2 linked regions of the Homo sapiens genome follow. The protein of the gene in region 2 purifies or fractionates together with the protein of the main gene of each other region. This does not show direct contact. Each region holds a gene or a part of one and is shown on either strand. Other genes may lie near its edges. The genes, in order: NAT10 and ZSWIM6.

Region 1 (3,820 bases), on a different chromosome or scaffold from region 2:
GGCTTCTAGTCCAAACCTGGTCATTGCTCGCCTTAGAACCTTGGGCACTTCCCTTCCCTGGCCCTCAGTTTAGTTTCCACATCCGTCAAATGAGGTCTTAAGCCTGGCGGTCTCTAAAGTCTCTTTTGTGCCTGAAATTCTGTGACTTTTTTGTTTGGCAGGTGGTAATACTTCATCACATGTTATCCAAAGCAACTGTGAAGGCTCGGCCTTCAGTGCTGTGGTGTTATAAGAAAGAGCTGGGGTTTAGCAGGTAAGCTGGGCTCTTCATGTGTTTTATCCAACTTACAATTCCTGCTCATTAGTTAAATGCCAGGAAATGATTCCTTCACATATTTTTTAAGGGTCTTTAGTGGAGGTGCTATCTCTGAGGACAAATGGAGCTGATATCCTTTCTTCATTCCTGAAAATAAGTTTCAAATCATTTTCATGCTTTTTAAGTCACCAATCCAATGCCTTGCCTTCTGCATATGGTTTTCCTTCCTGCTTTTCTAGGCTGATTAAGCCCATCTCATTGCAAGTTCCTTCAAACTGTCTTTCCTACCTCAAATTTATTCCACTTTTCACTCTCTCTCTTTTTCTCCCCTTCTTTCATGGAGGGGGTATATGCCTCATCCCATGTCCAAGGAAAACCCCTTTATGTACCCTGTGTCTCCTCCCTCACCTCTTTCAGGACCTGTATTGTCTTTCCTCTGCTGGCCACCCAATACCCTTTGGAAACTTTCTCCTTCCTGTAAACATGCTCAGATTTTTCTATTATCAAAAGCTGATTACTTACATACCCAGATTTCTCTCTCAGGTTAGCATTTCCCCCGATTTTTATTGCCATATACCTTAAAACAGAAATCTTTTGCACTTAGTAGCCACTTTTGCAGTCTGGTTTCTGCTTCTATAATTGTGATCAAATTGTGCAGTTAGACATCCCCAGCAGCTTGATGCCTAATGCGTCAACTTTTCTCTCTCTTTCTCCTCCTTTTCAGAGCTCTGCCTCTTCTTCTACCAGTTCACTGCTGTATTTGACAGTTGGCTATTTGAAGCTGTGGTAGTCAAGACTTTTAGTCATAGATAACATACTTTCAACACAAATACAATTTGGCACAAAGGGATTTCATTGAGGTATATGGGATATTTCCTGGAATCCAAGGGGATAAGATTTCAGCTCTGCTCACGGGTGATCTAGAGTCACAGTACTAATGCTCCCAGCTCAGTTTGTCATCTCAGTGTATCTGCTCTATGCAGACCAACTTTCTCACTGCAGACCAGCTTTCTGTTTTCTGTTGTCCCCCTAGCAGAAACAACACTTGCGTTTTCCTTGTTTCAGGCCCAGCCATGTGGAAATCAGACTTTTTCCCAAAATTCTGGTGGAAAAATGCCCACACCTGGCCAGAGGAGGGTGGGGTTGGTCATAGCATAATACAAAGTTGGAAGTTCTACCTACAACTTTGTGTTTGGAGAAGTTTGGATGGGGTGGGTAGTGCTGTTCCTTGGCAGATAACCACCATGGCATCACCTAAGAAATAGTCTCCTTTTTTGGCTTCAGTGTCTTTACTCAGACCACCTTCCGGAGCTCTTCTCTTTCTCTGGATCTCGTCTCCTTACTCTAAACCTAGCTGGCTTGTGCGATTCTGTCCTTGAGCCTCTTCTAATTTCCAAATGTGCTCATCTCCGATCTGACTCTGAAAGCCTGTCTCCAGCTCTGGTTGCTTTATGCTGTGACTAACCTCCCTCCTTTTCTTTGCTCATGCTGTCTCCTCTGCTTGGAATGCCACTTCCACCTCCCCGGTATCACCTATTGAAATCCTGTTTCTCAGGGCCTGCCTCCTCCGTGAAACTTTTCCTGAGCCCCCCAGTCATACCTGGTGGTTCCTCTACCTTCCTCTGCACTTGTCCTTCTCCTATAATGTTTGCCAATGGATGCTTTTGCTTTAGGGTAAAGTCACTTACATACTGTGACTTACGTTCATTTTTTTTTCTTTCCCTTTTTTTTTTTTTTTTTTTTTTTTTACTTTCAGGTGATAAGCTTATTTAGTTAGGAGCCCTCTTCTATTTATCTTTGTATTTTCATACTTTTAACTGATTTAGCATGTTTATCATAGGTACTCAGTATACATTGAGTTGGATGTGTTGTTAACAGGCTCTAAAATTATTTTAATTTAAATTAGTACCAGAGGCTAAACTTGCCCCTGTCCTGTGGTCTTAAAGTGAAGGGATTCTGCCTAAAGGAAACCAGACAATCATAAGAGCCTTACTGATGAAATGTGAAAAGTGCAGAAAACCCAAAGATGAAAATAAAAAACATCTCACTGTCTAGGCATTGTCAGCATCTAGGTGTATCTTACAGGGATGTAGTTTTGAACCATAATTGGTATTCTGTTGTATATACTCTCATATTTAGAGAGGTAGGCATTTTTAATACAGATTGAGAATAAGGCCTGTTGTCTATCCCAGAATTTTAAGTTTTTAGGGCTTCTGGTTTTCACTATTTTTCATTTGGCAAATATGAGATGGGTGTGGAATTAGGCAGTTCAAAGTCTTCTGGGCAGATTTGCCTTTTGAATTTAAACCACCTGGCTTCACTTCTAAAAATCTACTTTTGTACCTCTTATAGCTCTTCTGCCCCACCCCTGTCTTAGTCTGGCAGAGCATTGTGTTCAAGCTAATGCCTGTTTGTAAGTCACGGGCTTAAGGCCTGAGCCAGAAGGGACAGTGGAGACAAACTCACCCACTGCCTTGGTTCATAGATGAGGAAGTGGAGGCCCACAGGAGGAAAGGCCTTTGTTCTAGCTATTAAGTTAGAGAACTATGGTAAAATTTTGATCAGCTGTAATCCTCCATTCTAGAACATTCTAATTCTCTCTTTTGGTAAAGGAAAGGTAAGTAGCAACTGGATATGCAGGGTTTTTAAGACCAAAAAAATTCAGGAATTCCTTAGAGATGTCCAGATTCCATTCTGATCCCTGTGTCCTGTATCATTATTGTCTTATGTAAGACCTGCCCTTGAAGACATAATCCCACATTCTCGGGGAGGAAGTCCTCTAGGAAGGATGAATAAAGTAACGTGCCATCACCTTGTCTTTCCTAGGATCTCTGGGGAACAGCACAGTGTAGTTGAAGCATTGGCTTATGACTGAGATAATGAGGCCACTCAGGTTTGGTTTCAAGCTCTGGCTTTGGCCAAATGTGAGGGTTAGCTACCCTATTACCCATCTTTTAAAGCAAAGTATTTGCTCAAGGTCACAGGGCAAAATAGCAGAGTTCACACATAGACTTATCACTTACTCCAAGCCCTTAAGCACTCTAATGCCTCTCATGCCTCTCCACTGCCCTCCACCTGAAGTGGGCCTCACACTTTCAAGTTCCCTACTAGCTCTGAAAGTCTAAGTGGGTGATCACTGAGCCTTTCCCCTGGTTCCAGCTCTTTAGCTGCTCTGGTTAACTGGCTCTCATGGGATTGGGGGTGTGTGATTGCAGTCACCGGAAGAAAAGAATGCGACAGCTGCAGAAGAAAATAAAGAATGGAACACTGAACATAAAGCAGGACGACCCCTTTGAACTCTTCATAGCAGCCACAAACATTCGCTACTGCTACTACAACGAGACCCACAAGATCCTGGGCAATACCTTCGGCATGTGTGTGCTGCAGGTGGGTGGCTTCCTCTAACCTGTGATTGAAGTCAGAGTCTTGAGGGTTGCTTGGGCTGCCTGGCTTTCCACTGGGAACAGATGTACAGTAAGGAGAGGAGAGTCCCATGTTCCCTATGCCCAAGCATTATTAGTGGAAGTCCTGGCCACTTTCCAAAGTACACTCGGTCACCTACCC
Region 2 (3,820 bases):
GAACAATTAGTTTCTTATGACTCCAGGAATTTGACATTAGACTATGTTCTACCAACCATATTACAGAAGATAAATGTGACCTAAGTGTCTGTCCCTTGACAGTTTTGCATAAATTCAGAGTGATTTCTGATTTTTTATTAAGAATATACTGTCATGGCGAAACCCTGTTTCTACAAAATATAAATCAGTTGGGTGTGGTGGCATGTGCCTGTAATCCCAGCTACTTGGAAGGCTGAGATGGGAGGATCAGCTGAGCCTGGGAGCCATGATTACACCACACCGCACTCCAGCCAGGGCAACAGAGCAAAACCCTGTCTCAAAACAAATAAAAAAAGAATATGCTGATGAAAAAATTTCTAAAAGCAAAGCAAATATTTAGTAATCTCTTCTAAAAGTACCAAAAAGCTTAGTAGAGTACCTAAAGCTGAAATAATTTATTTACAACCATCAAAATGCCGGCCTTCAGTCAAGTACACCAGTGTTAAGAACTATGAAATAAGATAAGAGCTGGAGACCAAGAAGAGTCAGCTGGGTCTGGGAGTGATGCTGGCCTCAAGGCCCCACCCAAGAGCAATTATTGCCTGGTAAGCCAAATGGCTCATTCTCTTCTCCTTTTATTTAGGAACAAAAAGATGTCAGCAGTAGAGAAGGTGGCAAGGTAGGCAGTTAAGTAGTAAGAATAATGGCAGGGTTGCTATTTAGCTTTTTTTTTTTTAACTCAGAATATCCTCGTATTCACAGGCAGGTCTTGCCAGACTTACTGTAGAAGAAACTAATCAACATCCCTGGGAAGATGAGAAAATGAGTGCTGAAGATGACCTTCCTTAGCCTTCCTCTTCCAGAAGGACTAAGAAGCATGCGAGCTACATCTCTCTTTTCCTTCCTGTTCCCTGGGCTGCCTTGCAATACCTGGTGGGGCACATACCTGCCTTCCATGGCAGACCTTTGGCAGGATAGTAGTGGCAGATAGAAGAGAGAAAGTGGAAAAAAAATTCCCCTGTACCCTGCTAGTATTCCCCATTAAGAAACTGCCTTGGCAGCAACCAAGGACAAATATAAATGAGTTTGTGAGTGTTAGAAAAGCAAGCCTTTCTGCCTGGCACATACCATTACATAAGCCAGAACCACACAGAAACTTTATGCTATTTTACCCTTAAACTTTGCCAGTGGTAGTAGCAACAGCATCTGGTGGCACCATAACATTAACATCTTCCCTTTAAAACAAGATTAGAATTCCTAAGATTTGAGTAAGTATAGAGTTGAGCATATGTCTTCATAAGACAGCTTCCATTTCAGCTTCCAAAAATAAAAATAGGAACCCACTTATTTTAAAATCGTGCTCTAAAACATAAACCAAGTGGTATAATGTAATTTGGTGGGGGACTTTTGCTGATGTTTGTTATTGACTTATTTTCTGGTATTTTAAAAATAGAAAAAAGAATACTTAAGAAGATTCTCCAGCAGGTTAGTAAGATTCCATATTGCCAAGGAAAGCATGTCAAATTACAGGATGTCAGCCTTAAAACACACTGACACATAGGTATACACACAGACACATACACACATCCTTATCACTGCATAAAAAAGAGGTGTCCTTATACACATAAGCTACACTCAATACTTTCAGAACAGGGTAACTTTGGGGACACTGGTAATTTATAGGCAAGGATTTGTTTTAGAATCTACTTCTCTGATTACAGACATAGAATCTTTGATGAAAAGCTTCTTGAGATCAAACTGTTAATCAGCACACACAAGCTTTTAGGTCTACAACATGGCTTGTCCTTAGGTGATCTGTACTTTCCATTAGAAGCACAGGAGTGTTTTATTAATTTTTTTAAAGGAAAAAGAAAATGCTGATGTTTTAAGAAAGATGGATGTACCTTTTAGGTCCTTAAAATTTAAAGGTTATTTGTAAGATTAAAATATAATCTTGAACTCATTAAAATATTCACCTTGAACAAATCTGTGATAAAAATAATTATTATGTGAAATAACTTTTAAAAGAAGGTAGAAATAAAAAGGTGGGTGGTAGAGAACAACATATTCTAACTGTTATTGCTGAAAAGGAGAGACCGATGAGGAGATGGAAGCAGTCAGAAGAGAGGCAGGCAGAGCCTGAAGGACCCCGAATAGCGACTCCTTCACTGCTAAATGCACGTCCCACCTTCTCTCAGCCTCCAGTGAATACAGATGTGCCTTGGCAATACAGGGAGTTGCTTTCCTGCACTACTGATGGAATGCGGAATTACAGCAGGTGTGAAGGTCTCCCTCAATTATATTCAAGCCAGTATATTTACTATTTACTACTGCTTCAAAAATCAATTTTTTCAAAACAATTAATCATTTATGAAGGTTTCAACTGTTGCTGTTTTATGATTAAACTTGGCTTGAATTGTGCTTCACGAAAAAGTAGGAAAAAGCCACGGTGTGCTTGAGTCTGATAGCAGCAAGGATAACCCTTCCCTTACTTTAAACAGAAGCAAAACAAGCCAACAAGCAAATCACCTCCACAACAATACAGGAAGCATAAATACATAGTTTCTTTAGCTTTTCTGCTGCCTATAAGAAACATGAAGGAGTAAGTCAGTTAACAGCCATGCTTCCCAGTGGGAATGTGGCCTGCCTCTGCCCAGCTGGGCTGTGAATACATACCGCATTGCTCTCAGTGCAATTTTGTATGCCAATTCAGCATCGTGAGGTAGGAGAGAGGTGAAGAGATACTTGGCAAATGTGTGCATTGGAACGCTCTCCCGATGGATTATTTCACCTAAACCACTATATGGTCCGGCTGTGGGAAGAGAGCATACACATTTTACGTTCCTAAAAAATGAACTAACACTTCTTGTAAAGCATATTGTTAAAATGTCACATAAAGTTATAACATATACAAATAAGAATTTCAAGTAAATGATATAGAAAGGAATATAATCCTTAATCAAAAAAGATTCTTCAGGGTATAGCATCCGTTACAGATTTCACCTCATAAACAAACCCCTAACTGTCCCACAGCTAGATGAAAAACCCAGAACTCAGGGGCAGACAGCATTCACAATACAAGTGCCTCAGAGAAAGGAACCCTCTATAGCGTAAAACCTTGCTGCATTTGAGCAACATCCTCTCTCAATGTGTGGCATCAGAGCATCTTGATTTGTAAATGCACAGATGACACCACAGCTTAACTATGGAAACTACCCCTGGACCTAAGAAGGGTTAGGGACACAAATATGCCAGGTTTCCAGAAAATGGTGCTCTGTATCAGGGGTGAGAGGTGTGGGAGGATTCTGAACCACAGCTCTCTAACTATACACATTGTTGCCTCTAATGAGTGGCAACAGATATTAATTCCTAGAAAGTGATTATTAATAAAAAGAATAGTTACCCATTTCATACGCATCATAGGCAAAAGAAAAAAATTAAAGTAACTGGAAGTTTACTATTCTTTGGGCTCCTGAAAGCCAATTTTAAAAGCAAAATTACACTTAAGCTGTCAAAATTCATTTCTTAGTAAATTCTGACAGGCGTGGTGGCAGAGCTGACTTCCCCTGTGTGCTCCCTGAATGCTGCTTTGAGAACGGCAACATAGACTTTTAAAATAAATTCTGAAAGGAAACCACAGTGGTTAGTTCAACCACTTTGCACTAAGGTACTCTGAGGTTTAGTTACTGTAAAGTTTTTAATAAATTAGTTTCCATGTTACCTTCGGGTAACATCTGTTTCATGATTTCTAGAATTATGAACCATGACACCACTGCTCAGAGGACATGCTATATTTGTTTTCCATGAGAAAAACCAGTGTGGTGAAGAGTTTAGAATGCAA

What was found.
Region 1: the proteins of ZSWIM6 (region 2) and NAT10 purify together in Homo sapiens (affinity purification with western blotting; one study listed by BioGRID). This does not show direct contact.

What each region holds. Positions count from the first base shown.
Region 1 is NC_000011.10:34,108,581-34,112,400, forward strand, and holds part of NAT10 (RNA cytidine acetyltransferase), read left to right. Parts: intron 1-161; coding exon 162-253; intron 254-3,471; coding exon 3,472-3,643; intron 3,644-3,820. UniProt on the Homo sapiens protein: RNA cytidine acetyltransferase that catalyzes the formation of N(4)-acetylcytidine (ac4C) modification on mRNAs, 18S rRNA and tRNAs.
Region 2 is NC_000005.10:61,534,455-61,538,274, reverse strand, and holds part of ZSWIM6 (zinc finger SWIM domain-containing protein 6), read right to left. Parts: intron 2,792-3,820; coding exon 2,656-2,791; intron 1-2,655. UniProt on the Homo sapiens protein: involved in nervous system development, important for striatal morphology and motor regulation.